5 separate regions of the Homo sapiens genome follow, and regions 1, 2, 4 and 5 are each reported to be linked to region 3. Evidence: microRNA targets listed by miRTarBase, many of them from high-throughput screens and not tested one by one. Region 3 holds a microRNA gene; each other region holds the end of a gene's coding sequence. Distances are between the middles of the regions.

Region 1 (4,307 bases), not on the chromosome of region 3:
AAACTACTCAAAAGAATAAGGCAAGAGATAAGTTTTAGCTAAGACATCTGATACACTATCTTATCCTCTGATCAAGGCAGAAGGAGATCTTTCCTCACAAGTAATTCATTTTAAAGTTTATAGATTTCAGGAATGTATACTTCTCCAGTTTATTTTGAATTATGCTATCCACTTTTATCTAATTTTAATCATGCAAGAGTGATCATATATTCTGATTTCCTGAGACCAATGTTGTGCTGTTGGCCCTATATAACTATTGGTAGTGCCCCCTTTTCATTTCAGAAGTGTCTACTTTTATATACTTAGTTACTATACATTCCTATTAATAAACAATTATAAATTCTGCAAGGTGAAATTTGGATTCAATACACATGGCTTAGCAATAACAGATGAGGCTGGGCGTGGTGGCTCACACCTGTAATCCCAGCACTTTCAGAGGCTGAGGTGGGCGGACCACGAGGTCAGGAGATTAAGACCATCCTGGTTAACAAGGTAAAACCTCATCTCTACTAAAAATACGAAAAATTAGCTGGCCGTGGTGGCAGGCACCTATAGTCCCAGCTACTTTGGAGGCTGAGGCAGGAGAATCGCTTGAACCCGGGAGGCGGAAGTTGCAGTGAGCTGAGATCACGCCACTGCACTCCAGCCTGGGTGACAGAACGAGACTCTGTTTCAAAAAAAAAAAGGAAAAAAAAAAAGGAAGTAACAGATGAAAAGCAAAAGGTTATAACAAAAATTTACAGAAAATCTAGATAAATTTTAATGTATAATAACTTATCTATTTTAAATGATTCAAGCTACACAATTAGATAAATTAGAAATTTGCAATTACATTTTTTAGAGATCATTCCCATTGCAATACCTACATTTTAAGTACAAATAAATGTTTTATGTGTATTTTCCCTTCCTGTATCATCTACTGTTTTCACTTGTATCTATAAAGTTCATAAATTATTTAGCACTTCCTCCTTTCTGTATAAAATAATCATGTGGGATTTAGAAAGTATTAAACTCAGAAAAGGACAGCTTGGCATTACCATTGCCATTTTTCTGCTACATATTAACAAAAAGCAAAGTTTAGAGCAATGTTTTTATAATGTAACATCCTCGGACATTCTTATTTTATTTGCTGAGTCTCATGGAGAGACTAAATATAATTTCTTTAAAGGAAAGGAAAATTTTTGGATATGCCAATTAGTCCCATTGCAGTTTCAGGAAAAAGTATTAGCTCATATGTAGTCTTCAACAATATCCCTTATTATATTCAAACTATTTAAATATTAAATATCTTGATTTCACAGGGATATCTTAATCAGAGTCCATTTTAGTTTCTTGGGAAATAATGAAATTTGTGGGCTCTCACAAGGTGACAGCCTACAGAGGATATACATTTTATACTTCTTTAAAATTTTTTATAACTTGTCATTATATTGTTTACACACAGCATGACTTCTACATGTAAGACTGATCGTTTTACATTACTGTTACAGATTAACATAAAGGTGGAACAAAAATGCTTTAAAAACCATATTTTCATTTTAAGAAACAATAACCATTTTTTTTAAGAAAAGACATTTAGTTACTACCTTTAAAGTTCAAGTCCCAACATCTTAATATATAAACACACCTGGATACGAGATTTAAAAAACCACACAAACACACAAGCTCTAGGTAGAGCTGTAATAAACAAATTCCTTTTATAAACAAAATTTTAACTGAAAAGCCACAGCAGATGGGGGGAAAAAAAAAAGAAAGGATATTACTTGGTAAAATCCAGTGACATCTACAATAGTTTTACAGCACATTTAAGCATTCTAGGGTTTTATATCTTCACCTGCCTTCCATTTCTTAGTTGATCCTTATAAAATCTCTCATTACGAACATAGGTTTGACCTCAAAACTAGTCATGAATTTGAGTGCCAGGAAAAGCAGAACAACAGTCCAAATTTCTATCTTAATATCATAGCCTTAATTCAAAAATGGTTTTGTGTAAAACACAACGCCCAACTAAATGGAAAAAAAAAAAAACACACAAGCAGCAATATGTAATTATACAAAATAGTGATTAATTATATATGAAGTGTTTTTTAGGATGACATCTAGAACGCACCTTGCTCTGAGACTCCTCAATAATCAAATTGACTTAGACCAACAATACTGCTAAGTATTAAAAGCAGTGAAGCAAAGAAAACGCATCAAATAGTACATGCACATCTTACAGAACTTCCACTGAACTCCCCAATGGCTTCTATGCAATGTGCCTCTTTTCCATAACTGTATTAACAACTACCAAGAAAGGAAAGATGAGATTAAAAGTAATGATACTGAACTGAATTGTTTGAAGCCAGTGCCCCATATGTGGGGAAAAGTGCATTTAGTTCAGCAGCAATACAGCACAGTGTGAAGATATTGTGCTTAGACACAGATATTCCAGAATTGAAAGATGTACAAGGCAAGTCAAGATATAAAACCATAGTACACTGTTAAATAACCTTGAAACATACATACATTGCAGTTTTCAAAGAAAGACATTCATGTCATTGTACAAGGATAGGAAGAAATCCTTAAAGTTACCTACTGTAGTTTATGATATAATAAATACATATCTATATAGCATTGTATATACATATATAGATTGTGTGTGTTTATATGTAATTTATTTGCCCAATTATCCTGTTAGTTTTGTGGATCTGCAACTTTCAGGAATGAAAAAACTCCTTTTCACTGCAAGTTTCTCTTCCCCCAAACTTAAAAAATATTCATACTAGAAAAGGTCTCAATACCCTTCCCCTACCCAAAGACTCACTTCAGGTATTTTGCTTCACAACTCGTCAGAGAAGCAAAATTAAAGAAATTCTAGATTTTTGACTGTATCTTTTCACTTTGCCAGTTTTTTTTTTCAACAAGCAAATACCTTTCACTGTTTACACCAGTGGATGCAAATTCTTTAGCAGAGGATTCAAACTCTAGATTTGACTGAATAAAACAGAGCAAATCAAAACAAACAAAAGAAATCCAGTGATTTACTCTGACTGTAAACAATACATAAAATTTAAATCTCAAATCTCAAAATAAGTTAAAGAAAAATTCTACTTTCAGGGCCTACAATACTATAAGGATAAAACAATTGGTAAGGGGAAAATATATATGAAAAGTTGCAACAAAAATTTTTGCCCATTATTTTTCCTAAGAGAAAGTATATCTAACTATACTACCTCTGTCCCTTAAATTTAATAACTTCATAATGTGTTGGCAAATGTTTTAAGCAAACTGGCATATCAGATTACACAACAGAAAAACATCCATCAAATTCAGCAAAGAAAACTTATATAAGCCTTTTGTACAGAATTTAAAAAAAATTCTAAATGGCTATGATTCCTCTATTAGCAGAAACACATAATGCAATTTTTATAAATCTGCCATATACCAATATCTACATAAATAGATACAGATATAGATAAGAAACATTAATGGCAGTCTATTTTTGAACAGTGTGTGGGACCAGCAGATTTATATCAGACCATGGCACGATATGGACCCTGCATCTTTAAGAACTGAATGATGAAAGAAGGCCCCCCAGCAACAATCTGAGGTGGAAGGTGACTGAGTGGACAGTTCTCAATACTCATGATTGAAAGCTTGCTGCAGAGTGCCAGCTCAAAGGGAAGGCTATGCAGGTTGGGGTTGTCATTCAAATACAGTTCTTCTAGGTTCTCCAGTGTACCTGTTTAAAAAAAAAATCAATTTTTTTTTAAAAATTAGTTGCTATTTTAAAAGTTCAACTGGGCATGATGCTGTTCTGGTCATTACATATACTGAACACACATTTCCTTTTATTCTCCTTTCTTAGCTTTAAAACTCTACAACCATGGATCTCAAATTTTGCTGCATATTCAAATCAACTTGGAAGACTTTTTAAACTCCTATATGTCCAGGTCACACTTCATACAAACTAAATTAGAACCTCCTCCTTTATGGTAGGTCTTCAAGCTTGGAGAGGTTTTTGAAAATACATATGCCCCATCTCCAGAGATTCTGTTTGGGATAGTTTGGCACATATATAACATTTACTTATATATATTTTAAAACTCCAAAGGTGAGCTTATTATATATTCAATGTCTATAACCACTTTTCTGTTGTAGATGTAACATTTTCTCAAATTAATAAATTTCTTATGTGCAAAATATTTGTTACTTAATATGAACCTTTCACTAAGAGTTATCACATATATGGCAGTAAGCCAAAAACTGACTTATGTAGACCTTTAAAAATTTTTTCTTAGGATACTTGTATTCTCTAGGAAAAT
Region 2 (4,307 bases), not on the chromosome of region 3:
AAATGAATTCCAAAAGCTGGTTTTCCTAAGGAGAGTGATGAGAATTGGCCTGCCACATGGCAGAGTTTGATTTTCCCCTTTCTCATATTTTCAAGAGGTATTTCAATGACTACAATTGCTCAGTTATGACATTTAAGAAAAACATCCACATGACAAGCCCCGTTCCCTTCTCTCCCTCTCCTCTTCTCGTGGAGTGGAGGTGTTGGGGAAAGGGTGGATTGCACTCTTAAATTTATTTAGAACACATTCACTAACACATATTGTAATTTCATTTGGCACAGAAAGCCTGGTCTAAAAATTATTTTAGTCCAAAACGTACCAAATACAGAACAAAACTTTACACCAATCCCTTCACTTATCCAGAACCCTGGAAAAGCTGGTTTTTAACTTTATTGTCATCTCTAATAAAACAATTCACACATGAATGATCATGTCTGTACAACCACAGTGACTAAAAGTGTTTTTCTCCTATGAAATACTATGGAAAAATTTGATTCTAACTTTTTTAGTACCAGCTAAAAATTGAAACAGTTTGACGTATTTAGTGTATTTGCAAAATAATGAATAAACTTTAACAGAGTTAAACAAATATTTAGAAAAATTGTAGGAGGAGGTTTTGGCTCAAGGAAACGAAGAACTAAAAGCCACACTTCTGGTTTCCTTTCCTTCTATGAAAGGTTCCATTCAGCAGCATGTAACTTAGGTTGAACATGCGAAACTGGTTTTCATACCAAACACATTGTTGCTTAGATAACAGAGTATCTGAGATGAATTTAAGCTACAACAAGCTCAGATTTTAGAAATTATAGCTGAACTCTTTCTTCCTTTGTATTAGTATTATATTCTCTATATAAAATTTAACCCTTAACATCAAGGCTGACCGGGCAAATGTGCCAAAAAACATTCCTATAAATGGAATGTGCAAATAGAGAAGAGATTTTTTTAAGCAGCACAGTTCCTTTTTAAAGAAATGCTAGGTTTGGGAAGAAAGGACATCTAGGGTCTACCCTGATCTGAAACTCATCCTCCTCTGACACTACGTGTTTATGGCAGCATTTCTGTGCCCTTGGGCAGTGGCCCTCTCTAATCCTGGGATCAGGATGACCTTTGCAGGATCATAGCAGGGCCATCTGGGATTCAGGACTGACTTATTCAGAGGGTTTTCCACTAAATATGCACCCCGACACAAAGATCCCAGGAAGCATCACAGAAGGTGTTAGGTAATCTATCACCTTCAGATCTGCCAGAGAAAACAGAAAGCCCAGACTCATTTGACAAGGACAACCTTGGTGCTTGAAAATGTGTATTTCTTGAGTGGCTAACTGTCATTACCCACTCTTATAATCCCATAGTTTAGTAGTCCTAAATATTCATACTTCCCAGACCCTGGCTTTCTTTTTCATTAACTTATTTTACTAAAATCTTAACATCTTAGATATCTTTACATTTTGTTTTATTTAATATTTAGATATACATGTTTTTCTTAGCCATAATGATTTAAAATCCTAATTTAATGAACTCAATTTCATGAAGCCTTGAGCACGATTAAATGCATTTTGTCAGCACCAGGCTACTTTCAAAAATGTGTTTAGACTTCTCACCCTGACAGCTGTTCTCTTTGCACTTTGCTTTTTAAGTAACACACTTGAGGAAGGCTGACATCAGTCAATCTATATTTGAACAGAAGAAGAGACCTTCCTTTGTTAGAATTTCCAGGATGCATCATTTAACTTCAGCATGAAGCATACTGTGTTGACCCAAATAAGGGCACTGCAATTAGAGCACAAACCAAGGTAAGGGCTGATTCTCTATGGAATAGCCTTTCCACATATAATCATTTGTACCAAGGAAAGTATTACATTAGGAGATTCCAGGGCCTTATAATAATTTCAAAATGTAACAAAACAAACATGGAAAATGCCAAATGCCTTAAAGGAAGACAGAATTTTAAAACTTCCCACCTCGATGGCAGGTTAATAGGTGCAGCAAACCCCCATGGCACATGTGTACCTGTGTAACAACAACCTGCACATTCTGCATTTGTATCACAGAACTTAAAGTATAATAATAAAAAATAATAATAAAATCTCCCTTCATATGTCACTTATAATCCCATCTTATGGTATAAGTGGGGACACTGTTAGGGCTACCCCAGAGCTCATAGGACATTGTGAAAATGGCACAATTCTGTTTCCTTGGAAAATTAGCTAGTGTTGCAAAGTCACGGAAGTGACAAACCTACAAAATGCTCTAAAACTCTACAGATCAACCATTTACCCTCTCTCGGTCTAAAAACCTAGTAAGACAATAAAATACCACATGCTACCTAGAATGTAAAACAAGAAATTAATAATTTTTCGTAATGGGAAAGAACGTATATATTTTTCCCAAATAAATATTAATGGCTTCTCTTTTTAGAAAAACTTTTTCTCACCATGGAGATAATATTAGCCACTGAAACATTTCAAGAAAGGATTTGAGGATGACTACCAATAGACATTAATGCTGGAAATTTATTTCCACAGCTTGATTATACACTAAAATAGCAATACCCAGCTCTAAGTCCAACAGAGAGAAGCTAAAGCAGAAAGAAAAGAATTCCACCTCACTTAATTCATCGATCAATTCTTCCATTACTTTCTTTTAATTCAAACATGCATACACAAAGAAAGGTTTCTGTCCTTTAATTTTTTAACAGAATATACAGAGCCACACAATACGATTTCAATTTCAAATTATGGGAGATCATATTCAAATATGCTTAGGTTTGACAAGTTGCTGTTACAATACTGAGAAATTTCATGAAAACGGTATTTAACAATTTTTAAGATAATCAAATATCTTTTTGCTACGTGGGCCAACGCATTAATACTAACTTGTTTAAAAATGCAGTCTTTTAGACTTCAAATTATTATAAAACAATATCAAGATCATATAGATATACTTCCTGATTACTCAAAACTCGTTCCATTCTGATGGAGGCTGAAGGTAAATGTTATTATACATTAGAACATTTCATGAAACCACTTCTCCTTTGCACTTACCTGTAAAAGTCAAAAATTAAACCACAATTTCCTAAGACATAACTATTTCTAGAATACATTGGTGTAATCATAAAAGACTACAAGTAAATTATCATTTTTATACTAACACTTTTTACCACAACAATCTTTCCTAAAAAGACCAAAAAAAATTGGGAATTTGGATTTCCCTTAACATAACAGGATCTCATACTTTCTGATTTTAATAAATTTCCACTCTTTTTCCAGTAGGAACTATCTACACAGCACAGTGCTACATATAATTATACCAGTGAGATGTACGTTCAGATTCACCATATAACCAACACAGTGGTACCATACAAAGTTTTTCTGCAGGTAAAAATGCTAAGAAAGGCCACAGTGGACAGTGCCCGACAATGAATACAGTAAATTCCAGGTGCCACCGAGCTTCAGAGACCACAAGTTTCAAATATTTTTCAGCAACGGAAAGAAAAAAACATGTAGAGAAACATAGAGTAAAAATATATAATTCCACTATCAATAAGGTACTTTTCCAGATAGTGTTTCCTTCCTTAAACTGGCAAATGGAGCTTAACAGAAAATTACAGAAAGTGAACAAGATCATAATACGAAAGGAAATCTTCCTTGTTTTCTCATCAAAGGAATGCACTAGGATTCGCGCGGGGGTCTTTCTGGTTCCTGTATCTGTAGGTCAGCCAAACACCCAGGATCTGGAATGGGGAAAAAAAAATAAAGTAAAGAAAAAGAAAGTAACATTTATGTATATTTATTCAGTTGATCAATAAAATAACTTTGGACCCTCTCAATCGCTTTGCATCTTTTGTTCAACGGGGAGAGATTTTTTTTCTTTTTGAAATGAAGTAAACCAAATGACGGGCGCTGAGAAAAAATTAAAACGAACACTGTGGTAAACTGAATGACTGGCCCTGAAGGATGTCCATGTCCTAACCCCTACGACCTGCAAATATGTTACCTTACACAGTAACAGGGACTTTGCGGGTGTGGTTAAGGGTCTCAAGATAAAGAGATTATTACCCAGGTGGGCTCAATGATATAATCACAGGGGGACACATATGACGGAGGCAGGAAGGACAGAGTCAGAAACATGGAGAGAAGACACCGTGATGGCAGAAGTAAAGGGAAATAGAAAGAGAAGCTGCAACTCTCCTAGCTTTGAAGATGTAAAAGGAGGGCTGGTGAGCCTGGCCTCCAGAAGGTACCTTTATTTTAAACTTTTGATCTCCAAAACTGTAAGACAATAAGTTTGTGTTGTGTTAAGCAACT
Region 3 (4,000 bases):
AAGTCAATCGATTAGACGGAAAATAAATAAGGATCAATAACCAACTCAAGTAGAAATATTTAAGAAAGAATGCAGGACCCAAGGAACCTCAAACAGCAGATTTCAATTAGGATCCTCCACATCAAAATTATAAGTGCTTTTGTTGTTGTCACAGATAGTGCAAGTCTGTTCTCACCTCATGAGACTCTGAACCCCTATGGGTTTTTATTTGAGGGGAAGTTGGCAGCATTGGCACTGGGAAGATAAACCACACCAACAACAGAAATACAGGCTGCCCTCGCAGTTACTACTTCTGGCCCATCTCATCCAGCAAAAGCTGGTAGAGGAACTTTGGTGTTTTTCCATTTCCCTAGTATTGTAGTGAGATAATTTTACACATTTGCAAACCTTAAATAATCCTACACAACTCCTTTGTGTTTAAATTGCCCTAGACCTTATAGGTGAGGTTTATTCTCCCTTTACATATTCATTCCCTTCTTCAAACAATATTTACTAAGTGTCTATATGCTCCCTTCCTCCTTCAAAGTCCCAAAGAAATTTAATAGTATCTTTATTTTTTCTTGCGTCACATATTAATTTTTCTGTTATGATAATTATGGGCCTTTATTTGTCTTCCCTGCCAAGAGACTATACATTTCTAAATGGAGACCTTACCTTATCCATCTTTTACTCAAGTGACAGGCATAATAAAACAACAGCAGCAGCAACAAAATTGCGTGTTATGTAAACAGAAATGATACTTGTGTAAAACAAGTAAATGAATATATTTGAGATAAGCATATCATTGTGGTTTGTGATGAAAACTCACTATGATGAAAGGAAAAGTGATGACTTTCAACTCCTGTTAGTAAACTGGAGGTTTTTCAGTCCAATAAAATTAATGCTGATATCCAATTTCCAATGGTTTCAGGATATACATTTTTTTTCAAATTTTATAGAATGAATTTTGTCTCTATCCCTTGCCATGAAAATCAGAGTTGCAGTAAGTCAAATTGAAGGTAGATGTGTTTTGTTTTGTTTTGTTTTTCAAACACACAAATTATCAATCTTTTGTATCAGGAACTCTGGCAGACTGTTACAACGGTAGCTCCTGACTACAATTTGTAAAGGTCTAGCTTTTTTCACTAGACAGATTCTCCTAGTCAGATCTCAAATCTGAACTCCAGATATACTTGAACTGTGTTTCTATAACCAACAGTCCAATGCTCTCTCACCAAAGCCCCATTCCCCATCCTATTCCAACCCTACTAAATGACCGTTGGCCTTTCTTTCCAGTGTTCAAGAAAATGAAGGTTACAGTGGAGCTAATACTTAATCCCAGACACAGCTCATCCGATGTACAATAATTTCTCTTTATACAATTTAAGAAAATATTGTATATCAGATGAGATGTGTCTGGAACATAAATACAAATTTACTGCAGAAAAATTGTTTATCTTGGTTGAAAAAAATTAAGGTTATATTGGTCTGGTAATGAAATAATTAAAAGGGCTAATATTTGAAAAAAACTGTCAGCAGTATAGAAATCTTTGAAACTGAATTTGTTAGTTGGTGAAAAAGTAATGGCAAAACCTGCAATTATTTTTGCACCAACCAAATAGTTAGAAGTGAAGTAAATTTTTATTTTTCTTTAAGAGCTCCAAACTTTCCAGAATCTTTTTCTCTTCTAAGTCCTCGCCAGACTCTAGGCTTTTAGTACCCTGCTCCTCCAAATCTAGTCTCTGCCCATTCCTTAGTTCCAAAGCTGTTTCCACATTTTCAGTGAAATAAACTTTCATAGAAGCCATTCCAAATACTTCCAGTTATAACTCTAAAATAACACGTGCTGTTCTCCAGCTCTTCCACTTCCTCCCCTAAGATCTGAGACAAATAATCCAGTAGACATATAGGGAAAGTAGATTTTCTAAGAATTGATAGTTGGATGCTAACTTGTTTACATGGGTCTAGTTTTCAGAATAAATGCTTAAAACTCATATTTAGTGTCAATTAGGGCAATCTCTGTAGTGTATTGCTCAGAAACAGCATGTTCAAGGCATGAAAGCAGGAAGAAACATTTAAATGATTTCCTGAATCCTCTTTTAAGATGGTTGGGTCTTGGGTCTGTAGACAGGTGATTTACAGAGTCTTCTCTCTTGGTCCAGCTCCTATAGTTAGATTTGGTAATATGGTATCTGCCAAGATTTTTGAATCCTTCTTTGGGTACCAGTAAAAATAAAAGTACTTTATTATCAGTAAATATCATCTGTAATAAATTTATGGTCTTTAGTACTCAGCAAAAAAGAACAAAGAGATTTTATAATTCTATTCACTGAACATTCACTGAGGACCAACCACGAGTCAAAGGCCAAATACATTTTCCTAGCTTCTGATTTTGTAAAATGGTACTGCTATTTATAATAATAGCATTCATTTCATTACGCTCAAAACACTGAAGTGAAAGATGCTTCCGTTTTCTTTAAGCTACTATTAGATTATTTTCATTCAGTAAAAGGACGAAAGTGTTAACTTCCATACCACGTTAAGAAATAGGAAAAAGATATCAAGATTTAGCTCAATATGTTTCTTTTACAGATAAGAAAACTGAAGCTCAAAGCAGCAAAACGGCCTAGCCAAAGCCATCAAGCCAATCATTGGCTATTTGGGCACATTTCTTCCTTCTTAAACCAATAAATTTTTTACCCAAACATTTCTAGTGCAAGGCAGAGACATAGAGAATATAAAATGTTCTTTTGTCTGACCAATTACAGGTATGTGGTTCTTCTCATAGTCAAAGCAGAAGGATAAATAGCCAAGACTAATCCTAACTAAAGAAAGCAAAGCATGGCACCAAAAAGGCCCCAAACCTTGAGGAATATATCATTCAACTAGTTTCTTGGTACAGTCCTTATAAGAAGTACCTCTAAAACCAATGTCTAGAAAATGTTACAATGGTAGGAGTCAAAATAATCCCAATTACGGAAAATAGGTTTCTATCTCTAAAATATATACTGCAAAACCACCCCAAACCCCACACTCACCTCCTTTCCCCTTTGCCTGCCCATATCTCCGTATCTCTCTCTCTTTTTTTTTTTTTTGCTTGTTTTGAGATGGAGTCTCGCTCTGTTGCCCAGGCTGGAGCACAGCGGCACGATCTCAGCTCACTGCAACCTCTGCCTCCTGGGTTCAAGCAATTATCCTGCCTCGGCTTCCCGAGTAGCTGGGACTACAGGCGCCCACCACCTAGCCCAGCTAATTTTTGTATTTTTAGTAGAGAAAGGGTTTCATCATATCAGCCAGGCTGGTCTTGAACTCCAGACCTCAGGTGATCCACCAGCCTCGGCCTCCCAAAGTGCTGGGATTACAGGCATGAGCCATTGCACCTGGCCCCCATATCTCTTATCTAAAATATTGCAACACCTTTCCAATTAGCCTCCCTGCTTTTAGTCTCCCTACCTCCAAACTGCTGCCAGTTAGCTTCCTCCAACAGAACATGATGTCATCTCCCAACTCACAGCCCTTCCATGTTTTCTTAACACTTGCAGGACTAGAGCCAAACTCCTTAGGGTGGTATTCACAGCCCATCTCAATCTGGCTCTGTGGACTTCTCTCTAGCCTCATTTCCTGCTACTCCTGTTCCTGCAAACTTTCTATGGTCCAGGTATACCAAACTGCTTCCCACTCCTAGACTTACATAACACATTCATGTCTCCATGCCTTTACTTACCCTGGTCCCTCTACCTGGAATATCTATTCTTATTTTTCCCAAGACTTTGCTTATCCTTGAAGGCCCAACTTTAAATGCAAAGTTTTCTGTGAAACTAGCAAAATCAGTTTTCTGTACTACATTCCACTTTGTTTAGGTAATAGGTATTACCTGAAAAATATTTGTTAAGACCCATTATATGTGCCAGCACTAAGACCCAGAGATGAAAGGTCAAAGCTACTGCCTCTGAACTCCTGAGTACGTGTCTGTAAGGGGGAGCTGGTGGGGGGTGGGTATCACAAGGCAAGTGTTCATCTA
Region 4 (4,307 bases), 67 Mb from region 3:
GAAGCCACTGGGGGTGCTTTTTTTTTTTTTTTTTGAGACAGAGTCTCAAATCTGTCAAAAATCTGTCGCCCAGGCTGGAGTGCAGTGGCGCAATCTCAGCTCACTGCAACCTCCACCTCCTGGGTTTAAGCAATTCTCCTGCCTCAGCCCTCTGAGTAGCTTGGATTACAGGCGCCCGCCACCACGCCCAGCTAATTTTTGTATTTTTAGTAGAGACTGGGTTTCACCATGTTGGCCAGGCTGGTCTTGAACTCCTGACCTCAAGTGATCCACCCACCTTGGCCTCCCAAAGTGCTGGGATTACAGGCGTAAGCCACTGCGCCCGGCCAGCCACTGGGGGCTTTTAAGCAGGAGAAATTTTGCTTGCTGGTTTTTAAAACTGGAGTGGGAAAATCATTCAATCACAGCAATTATCTTTAAGTGCCAGTAGATTACCTATCCCTTCTTAATGCACCAGGAGATACACAAATGCACCTCAGCCAAGTCCTCTTCCCTTGGACAGGGGTGCCCCCAGCTGGCCATTGCATTCAGAAGCTGGAAGCCATGTTTGTCTAAACCTCTTTAGAGGTTGGGAATTTCCTTCCCAACGTAATTCTGTGGGATAAAATCAGGCTTGTCCTGGAAATGCTACCCCAATCAGGAGTGGTCACTTTCTATCTTCTTTATTCTTCAATGTTTATGCTCAATAATAAAGATTCTTTTTTAAGGGTCAATCAAGTTCATCAAGGGTACTCTACAAGCCTAAATACACACAGAAATCATGAGTAACCTAAGTAATCTCTAATATGTTTGATTAGATCACCTAACTCTAGATAGAATGTTCATTTTTCTTGATTTAAAAAGGGCTCACACATTTGATTAATCTCCCATTTTACAAGATGACAAGTTTATCACTCCTGGACACTGGCACATTAGCAGGGACTACTATAGCAGCACTGGGTACATTATCACTACATTTCCCAAACTGGTATCTTCAGTGTACAACTTATTATTAAAACAGGATCTTGCTCTGCCACCAAGGCTGGAAGGCAGTGGCACAATCATAGTTCACTGGAGCCTCAACCTCCTGGGTTCAAGAGATCTTCCCGTCTCAGCCTCATGAGTAGCTGGAACTACAGACAAGCACCATTTAAAAATTTTTTTTAAGAGACTGGGTCTCACTGTGTTGCCTGGGCTGGTCTCGAACTCCTGGGCTCTTGATCCTTCCGACTCAGCCTCCCAAAGTACTGGGATTGCAGACATGAACCACCACATGTAGTTCGGAGAACAACTTATAAAAGAATGACATATTAGAAAACACCCTTTTTATTACTGCACTTACTTGGTACATTTCAATCTCAAGTTAAAGCAACTTTTCAAAGACAAGGGCATTATATTTTCCAGTCAGCTGAAAACAGTCATTTGCAACCCACTCTCCATCCCATTCCTGATTTCCTTCTCTATTTTTTTTCATAGAACTTTATCACATTTTAGCATACCATATAACTTACTACTGTCTTCCTTCACCAAATATAAGCTCTTTAAAACCAGGTATTTTTGTTTTGCTGAGTGATGCAACAATAGTGGTTAATAGTGCCCAGGAAGGCATTTAAATATTTGTTAAAAGAATTTGCAAATGTATCATCATAGGTGTTTCTTCGTATGGCTGTCTTCTGTTCTGCCAAGGAAGGGCCAAACTCATCTGTGAATTTTCGCACCTTCTACTTCTTTTCTGTGTGTGTGAGTTGCTGAATCCTACCTTTCAGGCAACAAAAGCAAATCAACAAATTGTTCTAAGGCAGTAATTACACACAGGACCCTTTTCCAGCAGGCAAATCAACTTTCAAAAGCAATGTCATCCATCTTCCTTCATTAGTTGAGGCTCTAAATGCCATTCATCACACTAAACCTATTCATTTATACTGTCACTCCATGCTGCCGTCATTGCACATTTTTCATATGTTACACTGGAATGATTCAGGCACTCTACTAACATAATTGGATTAGCTAGATGGTATTTTGGCAGACCTGAAAATCTGGAAAGACTGTTAATGAATCCTTTCCAAGGATCTGAATTCCCTCCTGAGCAGCAGAATCAGGGAGATCTTTGTCTTTCTATTCTTGCATCCATCCTTTCAACTCACTTATCTACCCAAAAATTACTTACTCAACTTTATATATAAAGGCATTTTTTACTGCAGACCTCTAGGAAATTTTTGTTGAGACTAGATTATAATCTCCACAAAAAGTGTCTGACCTACAGTAAGTGCTCTACGTTTTGTTGAAAGAATGGTGGGCACTTTATATCTTTATCACTCATTTCCAAATGCATAATCTGATGGTGGTCAATGTACACAGGCCCACCAGAGACCCAGCTGGCTAATCTAACTGGGCCAGAGCCAGGTGGCTTGTTTAAATCACTGTGGTGGGCAGAGTCCTAAATTGGCTCCCCAAGATATCCCTCAGACCATGAAACTTGGTGTCTGTGGTTATTACATAATCTGGCAAGAGATTTACAGATGTAATTATGATTCTCATCAGTTGACTTTGAGTCAAGCAAAAAGATGTGGTAGGCCTAATCACACAAGCCCTTTAAAATCATTTTGTCTGGTTTGTAGCAGAAAGGGAAGTCAGATAGATTCCAAGTATGAGAAGAACTGAATGCACCACGCCCAGCTTAAAGATGGAAGGAGCCATGTGTCAAGAAATGTGGGTAGCTTCCTGGAGCTGAGAGTGGTACCTGACAGTCAGCAAGGAAATGGGGACCTCAGGACCACGATGCAACAATCTGGCAACTCAATGAGCTTAGCAGCAGACTCTTCCCCTAGACTCCAGACCAAAGCCCAGCCTGGGACTCAGCTTGATTTCAGCTTTGAGACCCTAAACAAAAAAAATTCCAGTCAAATCTGCCCATCTGGCCTACAGAACTGTAAGATACTGTTTGTGGTAATTTGTTAAGCAGCAACAGAAAACTAGTAACATAACCACTCCATACACTAGAAAGTGGTTTTTTTTGCAAGGACCAAATCCTGTAATTACAGCAGGTTTGTTACTAACTCATTTGCTGTCATGCAAGCTCTTCCCTGCTCTTCCCTTTCCTGAATTTCTGCTTTCCTTTTCCATGACCATGGAAATACTGTCCAGGAAAGAATTCCACCAAAAATTAGTTTTTATATCTGAAAATAAGATCAGTTAAGGTACTAAAAGAAAACTTCTTTGGGCATTGTCCAGCTTATAATACTGCCCTTTTATAATCAACCCACAAAGATAAATCAAGGAATAAACTTATCAATAACCAAAAAGGTCCACATCCATGCCAATAAATTTATAAAAATTAAAAAATACACTACAAATCAGATATTGAAAGTGCATGCAAATTATCTTATGAGAACTGTCTTGCAACCTGACAGGATATTAAAAAAATAGAAACTAAAAATTCAATAAATAAATAAAAAGAGAACTGTCTCAACATAGAAAACAATCAAATAAATATGTACACTGAGTCAGAAAATTATTTTAATAGTTACAAAAATTTTTTTTTTTTTTTTTTACAGAATCAGTATAAAATAGCAGTTGATTTCTCCATAATTATCAGAATTATTTATACTTGAGGTCTTGGCTAAGTGGGGCTGAAATCAACAAAAGGTCTTGGACTGTTGGCTCAGAAATCATCCTAGAAAGCCCGCCCTGTTGATATCTGTCATGCTTAGCTCTTATGAGATGACCCAGTCCTTAAAAAAAAAAAAAAAAAAAAAAAAAAAAGAATCTCTCTTTATTCATTCTTTGGAGGCTTGAAGTGAATTCGGCAGCGTTCATTAAACACCTAAAATATTGAAACAGAAACAAAAGTCATTGAGTTATCCTGCGTAAATCAGGCCTGGAACTAAATTCAATTTAGTAGGCTCCAAAAGGCTATTACCATTTTTGTCCTAAGTCAACAGATTTAGGAAACAGAAGAGTTTCCTCAGCAGTTCAAACTGACTTATGAGGTGCCAAATGCACAGAAGGCCTTGACATCCATTTACAAGACAATTCTAGTATTTTAATAAAATTTAAGTTACTTCGGGAAAAAATCATCAAGAGCCAGGTAATTTAGTTACTAGCAAACATTTCAATTTCATATTCTGGACATTTTTTAAACAACAACACAAAAATATCTAAAATAAGTTAAATAAAGAATGCTCAATAACTAAATGTCCACATGGAACTGTGTTAAATAAAAATTTGGTATGGTTATTCAATGGAATACATGCAAGGTTAAAAATAATTTATGTTCTGATTTAAAAAGATCTCCAAGATTATCAAGGGAAAAAAAAGTGTGAATAGTA
Region 5 (4,307 bases), not on the chromosome of region 3:
AATGTAAATGGCTCCATAAAAATGTTGAAATGTACTAACGAGGAATCCACAAAGTGTGTTCATCTTCACCGAAGCACCTCAAAGGCACTCAAAACCCTGCTCTAATAAACACTTAACCACAGGTTTTCAGGGCAACTTGCTTGTTTTGGCCTCCACATTTTATACCGTTTAGGTCCTCAGAAATGCTTTTCTCCTTCCTGTTTTCTTCCAAGTGTAAGCCCATGGCTTTCACAGGCAAGTTATAGAGTCGACTGAGAAGACAGTGTACTTTCCTCGACACGTAGATCCCAAGTCCCAACAATGAAGGAGGATCGTTCCCAATTGTCTTGGAATAATGAAAATAAACATATATGGATTAAGTGGCAACAAAGATGAGATAATGGCTAAGGCATTCCGGGATTAAAGATCTTACAACTCAGGTTGTAACTGTGATTAAACTGATGAGAGTGGGGAGTTCCAGTGCCTTTGTTCTTTGGAGTAATTCCAAAACTCCTCTGGGCAAGTATGCTATGGAAACTGAATCCCGAGTAGATGAAGCGGTTAAGCAAATATACAGGGTTTCACACTAAACTGCAGTAGAAAAGCATCAGAAACTGCAGAAAAAAGAAGTGTATGTTCATAATTATGTATGATTATGTGGATGTGTGTATATAAATACTTGATATAAAGAAATATAATGGAAAACTAGTTGAGCACATAAAAACTATATTCAAAATTCTTACGTGCCATTTTTTAAATTCCTAGACTTAAGCTACTGTAACAAAGGAAAAAGCAGCATTGGTCATATCAGAAGCCAGATGTCATTCAGTATCAACACCCCCCTTAGCACAGGAAGATCCAGACATTTGAGCAACTATAGCTTCAGAATACCGGCCAACCACGAATTCCATAATAGAAATATAAATGCATCCATTCATTCCCTCTCATTAACAGTCAGGCTTTGAACAATGCAAGTGATTAACACATTCATTGTTCTGTTATCCTTTTGCCTCAAATTTTTACTTCTTTAGGGATCAAAGATATCTGAACACTTAGCTAACAAATGCCTCTGCGAAACCATCTCTGCAAAACGTAGTGGGCATCAAAAGTGCCAGCATGAATTTTTTACTATCTCAAGGGTGTGACAAAAGCACTAAAGGAAAACAAATCTATGAACTAGTTTTATTTGCATTTAACATGATTATACACATTCATGTGTCTAACAAGATCTGCACTGTTACATTAAAAATACAGTACAATAACATTCAACATGAGGTACTTCATATTTATGTATTTTTTCCTTCATAAATAATGCTGTAAGCTACTAAATTCAAGCACACTGATGCACAAGTGGCTACAGTGTCTTGAATTAGCTGAGCTTATTTAAACACCTTAATAAACAAAAAAGTTCAGTGCAATAATTATGTAGAAATTAGACCATTTACTTAAATACTATTTTAAGATATGCTTAAAGAATGTCACATTAGAACTGCTAGCCTAGTTCCCCTTTATCCCCAGAATGAACAACGACAAAGACTGCCAGCCAGATACGTTGGGGAAAAGCATCTACAGTGTATTCTGCTTAATAAAGTTGTGTTTATAGAATAAAGTTGCCTGCTTTGTTAGAACAATGGTTTCTAGTTTTAAAAGCTACAAAATCCAAGATTACAAAAGTAAATAAAGCAAGCATATTAGCCTTCATTCCATTTCATTGAAAATGCATAAAGGACAATAGGGTTTAAAATGTAAAATTTCTTATTCTAAATACAATTTTCAAATTTTACCCACAGCTCTCGGTACCAGCCAATCAGATGGTAGATATGTTTTAAAGTAATAACAATTAACATAAAATTACATTATTCTATACACAGTGTACAGGATTTCACACGACTTTCACCAGCAGCTCACTAGTCACATGGAGGCAGCTAGCAAACATGGGCACTGACAGTGAGCGTTAGTGAATGAACGCACTGCACCTGAAGACTATCACACCCACCTCAACAATCTGATAGGATGCAATTAAAGTTTCTTCTCTGGCTTACAAACAAGTGCCTTCTTATAAGGTCTACCAATTTGCACAGCAGCTATGAGTTACTGAAATGTGTAACCATAATTTAAAAACCAAATCTTTTGTAGAAGTGTGCTTTTTAATTGAAAATGTACCTTTGTACTTCAATGCTTTGCCAAACTACCTGTAATCTCCCCAATAAGAAATAATTGTACTTTTAGAACGTTGTCCTGGAAATACTCATCTATAATCACCAGTAACAGCTTTTCATCATCTATGCTAATAGATGTAGGTAATGGCAAGAGTGATTAAAACATTTCCAATAATCCAGTGTTCTCCTCCCTCAGGGAAGCCGGCTGAAGGCAACAAGCCCACATCTACAGGGGAAGAAGTGGCCCAGAGGCACAGTGAATACGTCAGGGCAGTCACTCATGGGCCTTGCTGGGGCCAGCAGGAGGACCATTACTGTCCCACCTCTTACTAGCCAGGTAGAGAGGAGACAGCTCCTGAGCTGGCAAACACACTTGCATGCGCATGGGTGCGCAGGCACACACACACCCCAGGACTAACTCCTGGCTCCAGACAAGCCAGTTTCAGGCTTGCAGAGCAGGAGCAGGAGGCGGCCAAGGACCACACTCTGGGTGGCGGCGGGGAAGCCATCTCAGGATCACACTGAGCAGAAAAGCTGCCCAGAAACACATGGATACTTCAACTGGAAGTGAACACACTGGACACTGCCAGGGACACAGGCACTAAACCAGCACAAGCCAGCAGCGAAGGAGAATTTAATAAGTTTTTCCCTCCTTTGTTTACATTATCTGTGGACAAGTAAGGGAGCTAGATGTGATACTGATGCAGTGAATATTAGGTATAATAAAATGTGTCACTCCAGGCCATTTTTTATAAACCCTGCAGGCATATGTTGGCACTTTAAGATGGCCAGGGGCCAGATTCTAGCAGTCTAGGAACAGGACAAAATTAAAATTAACAAAGAATATAGTATACAATCAAAGTGGATCAGGTAAAGTATATTTCAAATTTAAAAAAATGAACAAAGGTATCTCATTACATTAAATGTAGTGCTACAAAACTAGTTGCTACTCCATTTGTATAAAGAATTGTTTGGTCCTCTTTTAATGGGGAAAAAGAAAATAGAAATTCTACACAGTATGACTTATACAAATAAGCAAACAGTGGGGATCAAAAGCTAAGTGGAGAGAAGAGTTTGGCTTTTTCAAACTGCATATTCTTATATGCCATCAATTAAATTATTTGTAGTATGAGTCTTTTTCAGGCTTCCTTTTTAAACTGTCTTAGTTTAAATTAGTAGGAGTTTAACTTTTTTCTACTGACAATAAAATCTAAAAATTTACTTCTAAAAGAAGTATCTGTATTGAAATTTTTTGTCTTCTAAACTAAAAGAAAAGAAATCTGCTTGTAGAAGTCATGGCCTAAACAAATGCCCCCAGTTCCTTATTTTCCAATTTTACATTGATATTCTGAAGTGTTTAATACCTAACTATCTTATGAATTTAGTAATTTTTTAAATCCCAGAAGCAACAAATGTAAAAGGAATAAAACGAGAGCCAAACACAACCACTGTCTACTTTCTAAATTATTACTCATTACAAGGCAAAACTTCTTTCAAAATTGTACACTGAGGTTTATCTGTTTTGGGGGGTAAGAGGAGTTCTGTTTAAAAATAACTCTTGTTATCACTTTATTTCTGTTCATCAAATAACGTCCAAAAGGAAATTCAAGGTGATCCAAAATTATCTTCAGAGGGACAAAACTGAGAGGGTGGTGGAACGCTTGGGAAAGCACATAATCTCCCCAGGTTCATAGATGCAACTCTAAAAACCACAAAGCCTTAATAAGAACGTTAGCTCTTTTAAGCAGATAGTTAAAAGCGGAATGCTGCATTTTTGCCTGTACATAATTAAAAGGTTAAAAGAAATTAGAACCTGCCTACCGCTTCATTCATTACAAATTACCGGCACTGATCACATATTTGCAGATGAGCTAAGCATCAGGCAAGTTGGAACCAGATGTGCACTTTGGAGCTCAAGCTGCTTCAGGAAGTGAGTTTTCAAGCATAGAATATAAGTTCAGGGATCTGCCCTCCCTGTACCCCAGTGCCATTGGTGCTATCTGAGGAGCACTGAAACTGGACAGTCACTTTGCCACACTGAACTTCTGTCATGCCTTCTTGTCCAAAGTAGCTGAGTTCATTGCCATCCAGTATCACACTGGCTGTGTAGAAGGTGTCTGGCTCGATCTGCACTGGGTATTCAAACCATACGGGAAAGGTATTGCTGGA

Evidence for each region. The annotated mature microRNA hsa-miR-944 reads AAAUUAUUGUACAUCGGAUGAG and lies in region 3 at 1,328-1,349, opposite strand. An mRNA with a match to its seed (bases 2 to 7 or 8) in the 3' UTR can be bound and repressed. Matches are read on the target gene's strand: a 7mer-m8 pairs with bases 2 to 8, a 7mer-A1 pairs with bases 2 to 7 and ends in A, and an 8mer does both.
Region 1: the mRNA of SHOC2 is a reported target of hsa-miR-944. Seed matches in the 3' UTR shown: 7mer-A1 at 2,067-2,073 and 7mer-A1 at 2,047-2,053.
Region 2: miRTarBase lists TSPAN13 as a target of hsa-miR-944. Seed matches in the 3' UTR shown: 7mer-A1 at 3,302-3,308 and 7mer-m8 at 2,907-2,913.
Region 4: the mRNA of MIX23 is a reported target of hsa-miR-944. Seed matches in the 3' UTR shown: 7mer-m8 at 3,575-3,581, 7mer-A1 at 3,565-3,571 and 7mer-m8 at 3,489-3,495.
Region 5: miRTarBase lists BTBD3 as a target of hsa-miR-944. Seed matches in the 3' UTR shown: 7mer-m8 at 3,601-3,607, 7mer-m8 at 3,254-3,260 and 7mer-A1 at 1,398-1,404.

What each region holds. Positions count from the first base shown.
Region 1 is chr10:111,011,027-111,015,333 of GRCh38, reverse strand. SHOC2 (SHOC2 leucine rich repeat scaffold protein) reads right to left here. Exons shown (of 9, transcript NM_007373.4): 9 at 1,669-3,724. The coding sequence ends at 3,516. Among named protein-coding and RNA genes, the nearest start is that of MIR548E, 24 kb to the right of the region's middle.
Region 2 is chr7:16,782,843-16,787,149 of GRCh38, reverse strand. It overlaps TSPAN13 (tetraspanin 13), which reads right to left. Exons shown (of 6, transcript NM_014399.4): 6 at 2,614-3,733. The coding sequence ends at 3,659. Among named protein-coding and RNA genes, the nearest start is that of AGR2, 20 kb to the left of the region's middle.
Region 3 is chr3:189,827,324-189,831,323 of GRCh38, reverse strand. MIR944 (microRNA 944) reads right to left here and starts at 1,402; the gene lies at 1,315-1,402. The region is part of intron 4 of TP63 (tumor protein p63); the gene reads right to left.
Region 4 is chr3:122,356,118-122,360,424 of GRCh38, forward strand. It overlaps MIX23 (mitochondrial matrix import factor 23), which reads right to left. Exons shown (of 5, transcript NM_001017928.4): 5 at 3,474-3,802. The coding sequence ends at 3,752. Among named protein-coding and RNA genes, the nearest start is that of MIX23, 25 kb to the right of the region's middle. RefSeq lists a silencer at 2,292-2,492.
Region 5 is chr20:11,923,436-11,927,742 of GRCh38, reverse strand. BTBD3 (BTB domain containing 3) reads right to left here. Exons shown (of 4, transcript NM_014962.4): 4 at 1,148-4,307. The coding sequence ends at 4,077. Among named protein-coding and RNA genes, the nearest start is that of BTBD3-AS1, 7.0 kb to the right of the region's middle. RefSeq lists enhancers at 2,070-2,570, 2,571-3,071.